2 linked regions of the Homo sapiens genome follow. The protein of the gene in region 1 interacts with the protein of each later gene in a pairwise test. Each region holds a gene or a part of one and is shown on either strand. Other genes may lie near its edges.

Evidence for each region.
Region 2: the proteins of COPB2 (region 1) and MSRA interact in a two-hybrid assay, tested with the Homo sapiens proteins (one large-scale study listed by BioGRID).

What each region holds. Positions count from the first base shown.
Region 1 is NC_000003.12:139,365,384-139,369,411, forward strand, and holds part of COPB2 (coatomer subunit beta'), read right to left. Parts: intron 3,985-4,028; coding exon 3,878-3,984; intron 2,906-3,877; coding exon 2,762-2,905; intron 1,763-2,761; coding exon 1,632-1,762; intron 1,393-1,631; coding exon 1,185-1,392; intron 1-1,184. UniProt on the Homo sapiens protein: The coatomer is a cytosolic protein complex that binds to dilysine motifs and reversibly associates with Golgi non-clathrin-coated vesicles, which further mediate biosynthetic protein transport from the ER, via the Golgi up to the trans Golgi network.
Region 2 is NC_000008.11:10,052,909-10,057,091, reverse strand, and holds the start of MSRA (mitochondrial peptide methionine sulfoxide reductase isoform a precursor), read right to left. Parts: upstream 2,801-4,183; 5' UTR 2,576-2,800; coding exon 2,434-2,575; intron 1-2,433. UniProt on the Homo sapiens protein: Has an important function as a repair enzyme for proteins that have been inactivated by oxidation. Catalyzes the reversible oxidation-reduction of methionine sulfoxide in proteins to methionine.

The sequences.
Region 1 (4,028 bases):
CTCCAACAATTATATACCAGTTAAATGGTTGAATATGTTTTAGGGTAGAACAATGGCACTTTCAGATATTCAAAGTCACAAAACAATTTATCTCTCATTAACAATCCTTTTCTCAGGAAATTGCTGAAGGGCATGTTCCCCTAAAATGAGGGAGCAAAGCAGGAAAGGAGATAGGGGTATAAGAAACAATGGATCCAACAGGACAGAAGCAAAGGAAGCCCCAACATGATGGTGAGGGGAAATCCATGATGAGAGCAGGAAAACCAGTGCAGTCTGAAGGAGACTAAGCAAACTGAAAGGAGATCTTCAGGAACTCTGGAGAACCAGCAAAGTCCAGGGAGAATTAACCACAGGTACATAGAAAATTAAGCAAAGGGGGGAAAAAGACAATTATAAACTAGGGAAAACAAACAATTGCAGGAAAGGAAAGCTAGATAATATGCTACATGTTCACCTGTGAGCAGTGATTACATAGCCATAATAATGTAAACATTTGAGTAGTGATCAATCAAAATTAGAACTATTCTGAGAGATAAAGGATAGGAAAGTGGCATGTATGTGGTAGACGCAGGGGAATGAAAGAAGGCGAAATTCTCATCTTCTACAGAGGGGGAAGTCACAAGAAATGCCTAAAGCTAAGAAATGAAGAAACTGCTATACCTCAAGTTATTTAGAGATATGGAAATAAATACCAAAAGAATTAGATAAAATAATTACCTCTAGGGAGTAGAAAGCAAAAAGGAGGGCTGATTTTTTTCTTAAGCTTTGCAAAACTTACTTTATGCTTTGCACATATGTAACTTTGCTTAAAAAACATTACATAAGAAAAAGTCATGTCATGGTACATTTTATATGTATTTTAATCATTTTTTTTTAAAAAGCAGATGGGATAAAGCTAAAAATGCAGTGTAGAAATGAAAATATCAGGAGACTGGAAAATAAGTGCACAGAAAAGGAAGACTGAAAATCACCTCCAACATTTAAAGGGGGCACTGAGAAAGGAGAAGGAAGAGTGTAAGAAGGGTGTATCATGTGCTGTAATAAGTGCCTTAAACTCACAGGAGAAATTCTATTGCCACAGGAAATCAGTTGGCAATTAAGAAATAAAGTTTTTCAACTCCATAATAATTTGCTTTCAAATTGCAAGTTTTAAAAAACAAAAAGAAAAAAACAAAACCTCTTACCTGCTTTTCCAAAAAGTGTGCAACTCTGGTCCTCTGTTCTTTTGGAATGGTAGGAAGGACCTTATCAGCCATGCTAAAGTCCCTCCGCATGACAGCTGTCTGGTATTCCAGGACTGAAACCAGCAGGGAATAGCTAATGATGTTCAATTCTTTATCCCCCAGATAAAGCCTGTTGTCTTTAGGAATGTAGCCTAGGAGATACATCGTCCTATAAAAGAAACAGAAACCAAGTTAGAAATTCAAATCTGCAATTACACAAACACACACCCCGCCAATCTCCCTCTTGCTCAAAACCTTCCCATTTGATTGACACAATTCTGGTTAACAATAGGCAACCTACTAAAACTATAACACTGAAAAATCAGCCTATCATTGCTACAAGCCAGCAACAGATTTTTCTAAACACACTTTAAAATTTAGGACAAATGCAAAATGATACTCAGGTACCTGTCCAAGTGGGCAATGGTGACTATTTCTCCTCCAACATAATAATTTAATCTGTTCACAGAACTTGTGTAAATGAAGCAATCGCCTACCCAAAGCCCTGTTTTCACAATTTCCTGAATCTCACCAAGAACCTGCAGAAAGAAAAATAAAGACAATTACTTTATCCAACATCAGAAATCTCTCAATAAAAAGCTGAATATATCTGAGGGTGATATGGCAGAATAAGGAATGCAAAGTAAAATCCTTCCTATTTCTAGAAAAAAAAAATTTTCCTTGGAATTTTTTTTTTTTTTTGAGATGAAGTCTCTGTTGCCCAGGCTGTAGTACAGTGGCGTAACCTCTGCTCACTGCCAACTTCTACCTCCCGGATTCAAGTGATTCTCCTGCCTCAGCCTCCCAAGTATCTGGGATTACAGGCGCCCGCCACCATGCCTGGCTAATTCTTATGTTTTTCGTAGAGACAGGGTTTCACCATGCTGGCCAGGCTGGTCTTAGACTCCTGACCTCAAGTGATCTGCCCACCTCGGCCTCCCAAAGTGCTGGGATTATAGGTGTGAGCCACTGCACCCCGCTGGAATTTCTTTCTTCATTTAAGAACAGATTCCTACTCAATATAACCCTTAGGCTCAAAACAGAAAAAAAAACAAAACAAAACACAGAACAGATTCCTAGATTAGTATTTGTAATGTGAAATCTCATTGTTGGGTCAAAATCATGATATAAAAGAATACTGATCTAAACTTAGACCCTTCATAACATGACAATGAAATATTAAGTATTTCACAAAATCTAGGACATCTGCACAATAAATGATTTACCATTTGGGAGCTTATTTAAATCACTGACTAAATAGTCTTAGGACCAAAACAACTATAATTTCTTTACTGAAAGATATCAAAGTAAGTCTAAAGAATTCTTAAAATCAAAGTACAAATTTCTTTTAAACATATTTATTTTAAATTTTGATCTATGAGTTACGATTTTAATTTTTCACATTTCACCAGAAATCCTTAAATGCTGTCTCCCTACACCTAATTTATAACGAAATGTTAAAATCAGTAAAGTCTGTTGTAAGAATATAAATCATTTAAAAACAAAGCTGAAAGCGAAAGTTGTGCTGATGCAATTACCTCAAAGGCATCTTCAATGCCATCTTCAGTAACTCCCTCATGTGTTTCCTGTGCAGCCAAGACTTTTTCTGACAGATACTTAAGGATAAAAAATGATTCCTCAGTAGCAATACAGACTAGCTCTCCAGAGTCAGACCAGAAAATCTGCAACACAACAAAATCATAGACAACTGATTTGGATTTCTGAGTGGATATGACAAACTGCACATACTTGGTTTCTTACAACATTTACCTTCTTATATCAAGATGATAAGTATTCACTTAACAATTTTATGTGGCATTATTTGGGAGGGTGGCCAGCTATTATGTGGCTATGCTATTTAGCCTAGCAATGGAAAGACCAAAGGGAGACAGGAAAGGAGAGCTGTCAGTAAACACTGAATGTGCTACACAGAGGACCAGTAGCCTATTCCCTCTTGCTCTAGAACAGTGTTTATCACCTTTTTTATTTTTTTCATTTTCACCCACCCTCCCTAGAAGTCTTTCTGGACATTTTTCTAATCACCTCCCCCAATGAAATTTTAATACCACAGATATACATATATAATGCATATACATATGTATAGCTATGCTTTATTCATAAAGAGTAAGCCCCCAAGTCAATGTTTACACCCACTGAGGATGCGTGCTCTAGAACCAGACCCCAGAAAAGCTGGTTTGTTTCCAAAGATAATCTCCTGACAGTGAAAACTGTCAAAGCAGCGGGCAGTTCTAAAGGTAAACACTTTGTCACTGGAGATGGTCACCTCAAGTTCAAGCAGCTATCATCAAAATGTATGAAAAGGTTTTCTGAACTATGTGGAAGAAGGCATTTCCAAGTCAAGAATTCTCTGACTTCTTGTTCTCAAAGCATGCTTTTTTCCTGTCAAAATGGCACTGCCACTTACCTCCAATTGCTCAGAAAATCAGGATTGTTGTATCCTAATGAGGCCGTAGACAATGTGTATTTCAAAAGTATAAGAAGTTATTTAAATTCTAAGTGCTGTTTTATATTTTAAATGGCTTTTGATAATCGAAGAGGGAGAGCAGGGTACAAAAGACACTTCTTGGCCTTAGGGACCCAGAACTCATCACAAAAATAAATATTCCAAAAACAACAATGGAGGGGAAACTCACATGTTTGGGCTGAATTTCAATTCTTCGTATGAGTTCTGTATTGTCCCAGTCATAGAAGGCTAAGCCATTTACAGATCTGACTCCCAATAAGAAGCCGCCGTAGATACCTAAAGGGAACATAAAAAGAGTTTTGCTTAGGCATTTTTGAGCC
Region 2 (4,183 bases), on another chromosome or scaffold:
AGGTTTGACTCTTTCCTTCTTGCAAGGTGGAAATCTTGGTCACAGTGTGTAAAAGGGTGGAATTGTCCTTAAGAATATAAAAATGGTAGGATGAACGCTAAGATGGTAATCCTTAACACCTCAAGTATTTGGTAATGGTACACACCTGATACTAGGCTTATCTAAACGCACTAAAGAAACAGGCCTTCTGCAGTCAAAAGGTGATGCTTTTGTCACGCAACTTTTGAGGGTCAGGGTACAAATAAGAACAGACATGGATGGAGGTAATATAGAGAAGGGAGGAGTTGTTAAACAGGATCCAAGTTGCAGTGGAGGTGAATTCCACATTCAGAACAATACTAAATCCTTAAGTTTCAAGTTTACAGCTACTGAAACCCACTGAAGAGGTAACACTGCCCATTTCTGGAGCCAGTCAGGGCTTTCAGCAACCTCTCAAGGCTCAGAAGTGGAGACTGGAACGTCCACAATCTAAATTTCACACACTTTTTGTGGAAAAAGTTACAATAGATGAACAATAAGGACATATGCATTGTAGGCTTGGCCCTACACCAAAAAAAAAAAAAAAAAGTTTACTGGCCCAGATACAGAGATGTGTTGGTGTACCAAAAACACTCACAGCTATATGGAGACAGCAGAGCCTGGAAAAGAACCAGGTCCTGAGGTTTTGCAGTTAAAAGTTATGATGGGGATAAGAAAAAAATTGTTGGCTCATTTCTGAAATGTTTGCTCATCTTTTACCAAAAATGTCATTTACATATTAGGAAACTGATTGGGAAGACTTTGGTTAAGATAAAGCCAAAGTAAATTTTGGTCCATCTTGACCTTGAACCAGTTTGGAAATCTGAACAAGAGTTTTTGGATTATTTGGGGTTTTTTTTTTTTTTTTTTTTTTTGGTGTATGGGAGGGCATAGCAAAGACACGGCAGTGTGTGAACGGGAAGTATAGCACAAGCTGAGGAAGTCTGGCATTTGAAAAGTATCGCCTTTAAACATGCACGTATAAATTCCTGCCTGTAAAAGAAAGAAAAAATTTTAAGATGCATTTATAAGTTTTAGATAATCTGGTTATATTTTATAAATCTATATATAAGTATAGATGTTTACTAATCTAGATTTGTTTCAAAACTCAATCTCTGCATTTGAATCAAAAATAAACTTTTACGGCTGAGTAGCAGGTGAAATGATGGGGAAACCAGGAAACAGAAACTGCTAATTCGATTAATAATAAGCCAGTCACACGATTTCTAAACTGCCTCTAATCCAAAAAACCTCTACCTTTTCTAATCTCATACTGATTATTCTACGAGATGACAAACTCTCAATATGACCTCCTCCTATCCTCAACAATTCTTGAAGGAAAAGAAAAAGAAACTTCTAAGGAAATTTTTTAAATGCTGAATTTCTCTGGCATTGAGCCATGTGTAGATTAAACATCACTTAATCCTCCAACAGCTCTAAGGCAGTGGTTTACAAGCTACAGCGTACATTACAATCACCTGGAGGACTTGTTTTAGAGATTGTTGGGCTCCACCCCCAGAGTCTCCGATTCAGTAATGGGGGAACGCCCACCCAGGTGGTGATGCTGCTGCTGCTGCGGCAGGTGGGGGCACTCTGAGAAGCGCTGCACTAAGGTAATATTAACGTGTGGCCCTCGTTCTGGGAAACGCGTGCTGTCTGCAGCAGAAATTGCCAAGATTTTGAAAACTTTTATAGCAGTTTACCATTACATGGCATCGAAGCACGTGAACATTTTTCTAGTATTTCACCCTTATTGTATTTTCCCAAAGTACTGATGTGAGAACGACTAGAAAGTTGTCCAAGTTTGTGGAGCATCGCTTTAAGCTGACCCAGCATACGGCAGCCCCTGCCCCTGGGGACAGCGGGGCCGACCTAGGGCACGAGGGGTGACTAGGGGTGACTCAGCCAGAACACTGGCCTGAGACGCAGTTCCACACTTAAGGTTTTCATCGTCTCGTCTCATTCCGGCATTTCCCGGGACAACACTCGCACCAGCCCCGCTGCAGGTGCCCTGGGTCCCGGCGGCCGGCGCAGAGGAGACAAGAAAGGAGGGCGCAGGCACAGCGCCGCGGGCGCCCGCGAGCAAGGCCAGACCCCAGCGGCACATTTCCTGCCCAAAACTTGGGGCCGCGACGGTATGCACTCCGGGTAAGTGAGACCGATGCACTAGATTCCTTCAGAATGCCCAGTTTGGCTCCAGAAGATGACGAGCCAAACAAAGACAAAGGGACGTCAGTGGACCCCAGCGTCTCCCCGGCCACTGCCGGCGCCCCTTCGCGCCTGCGCAGACCCCCACCCCGCGACCCGCCCGAGGCCAGCCCACGGCTTCCTTCCGGGCAGCGGGCGCGCTGCCGCCGGGCAAAGGCGCGCATGCGCAGCGTCGCCGCCCGCGCCTTCCGTGTGGCCAGTGCTTACCCGCTACAGGGGTCTGTTCCTTCCGGCCCGGCAAGGCCTCCTGGGGGCTGACGATGTTCGAGGCCGAGTTGCCCATCCTCGGGACGGGAAAGAGGCTGTGGAGGAGGAGGAGCTGGCAAGCCCTCCGGGTGGCCGAGAGCATGGGAGGGCGCCAGCCGAAGGGTGGTCCCGGGGGACGGCGCTACCGGCAGCGGAGCCGCAGCCGGAACGGCAGAGAGTGGGGTCCGCGGCCGGAACCGGGGGGCGGCAGGGGCGCGGGCGGGCGGGCGCGGGGCGCTGCTGGCGGGGCTGGAGGCCGCCCGTAATCGAGGTTGCCCAAACCCGGGGCCGTACCGGCTGTCACCGGGGGCGTGTTCCTTCCCTGGACAGGGGGTGTGGCCCGGCGAGTTCCTGAGGTTCTCTCGGGACGAAGTTCTCGGACAGAGAACAAGTGCGCTCCTGTCGTACGAAGTACGTGAAGCTGCAGAGGCCAAAAAACACGCCGAGCCCTTGGGGATGCGGTTTGATTTTAAAGTTGCTGCCGTGTCGCCCCGACTTCGCAGTTTAGCAGTGCCCAGTAAGATAGAAGAGGACCTGCCTTGCAGCCAGCTAGACTGTCAGTTTTTATTGGAGACATTGTCATGACGGCCATCAGAAGGGTTGCTATTCGTCCAAAGTGAAAACTAAGCACAGTTCTCAAAATGCGCGGAATAGGGAAGATGAATTCAATATTAAGTTATGTATTTACAAACATATTTAAGCCCATTTTGCAGCGGCCAAAATACGGGAGCAAGGCACCAACAGCACCATTAAGGCAGTGTAGGTGGACTTAATGGTGGTGTTGTATTATTCTTGTTTCTCAAATCATAGGAGATGACATTTGTTCCTGTGACATTCTCAAACTAAATGTAAAGTGGTTGGAGCGAGGTGAGTGACTTGGGAGTTCATCTGTGTGAGATTTTGGCTTAACACATGTTCTGCCAAAATGGGCAGGTCGTCTCAGATGAGGGAGGGAACTTCAGATTAGCACCCACAGAAAGGAGGCTTTCACCCAGCTTCTTGCATGGATTTAGTTACCACTTTGTTTTCATGTGGTCTGGACTGTAAGGAGGGCAGGAGGCTTAGCAGTGCTATAGTGTAGAATGAGGTGTGTTGCCAGGCATACAACACTAAAAAGGCTCTAGCTTTGATTTTGTAATTTGTATTTCCCCTGGACAAAATGATACCTAAACTGTTTGTTATTGCTATGAGGCTATACCAAGTCGGTTCCACAGGCCTTTCATGAAAACACCCCCAGGAGTCCCTTCTAGGCTTGCGAAGGCCTGGTCACTATTAAGGGTCTGAAAAAATAGTCATTCTGTCAAAGACAATATTTTGTGTTTTTCAGTTACTTCTTTTTGATACATACTGATTTGTCTGTGTTTTGTGGTTGATTGTATGAAGTTTCACATGCTAGAAATACTCTGCAACTAAGAGCTGAAGAATGTTTAGTGTGAAGAAATAACTTACTTGGCATGATGGCTCACTCCTGTAATCCCAACACTTTGAGAGGCTGAGGCAGGAGGATTGCTGGAGGCCAGGAGTTTGAGACGCCATCTTTACCAAAAAAAAAAAAAAAAAAGGTATTTAAGTAGTTGGGCATGGTGGTGTGGTAGCGCACACCTGTGGTCCCAACTACTTGGGAGGCTGCACCAGGAGGAACGCTGGAGCCAGAGAGGTAGAGGCTGCAGTGAGCTATGATCACACTGCTGTGCTCCAGCCCGGGCAACAG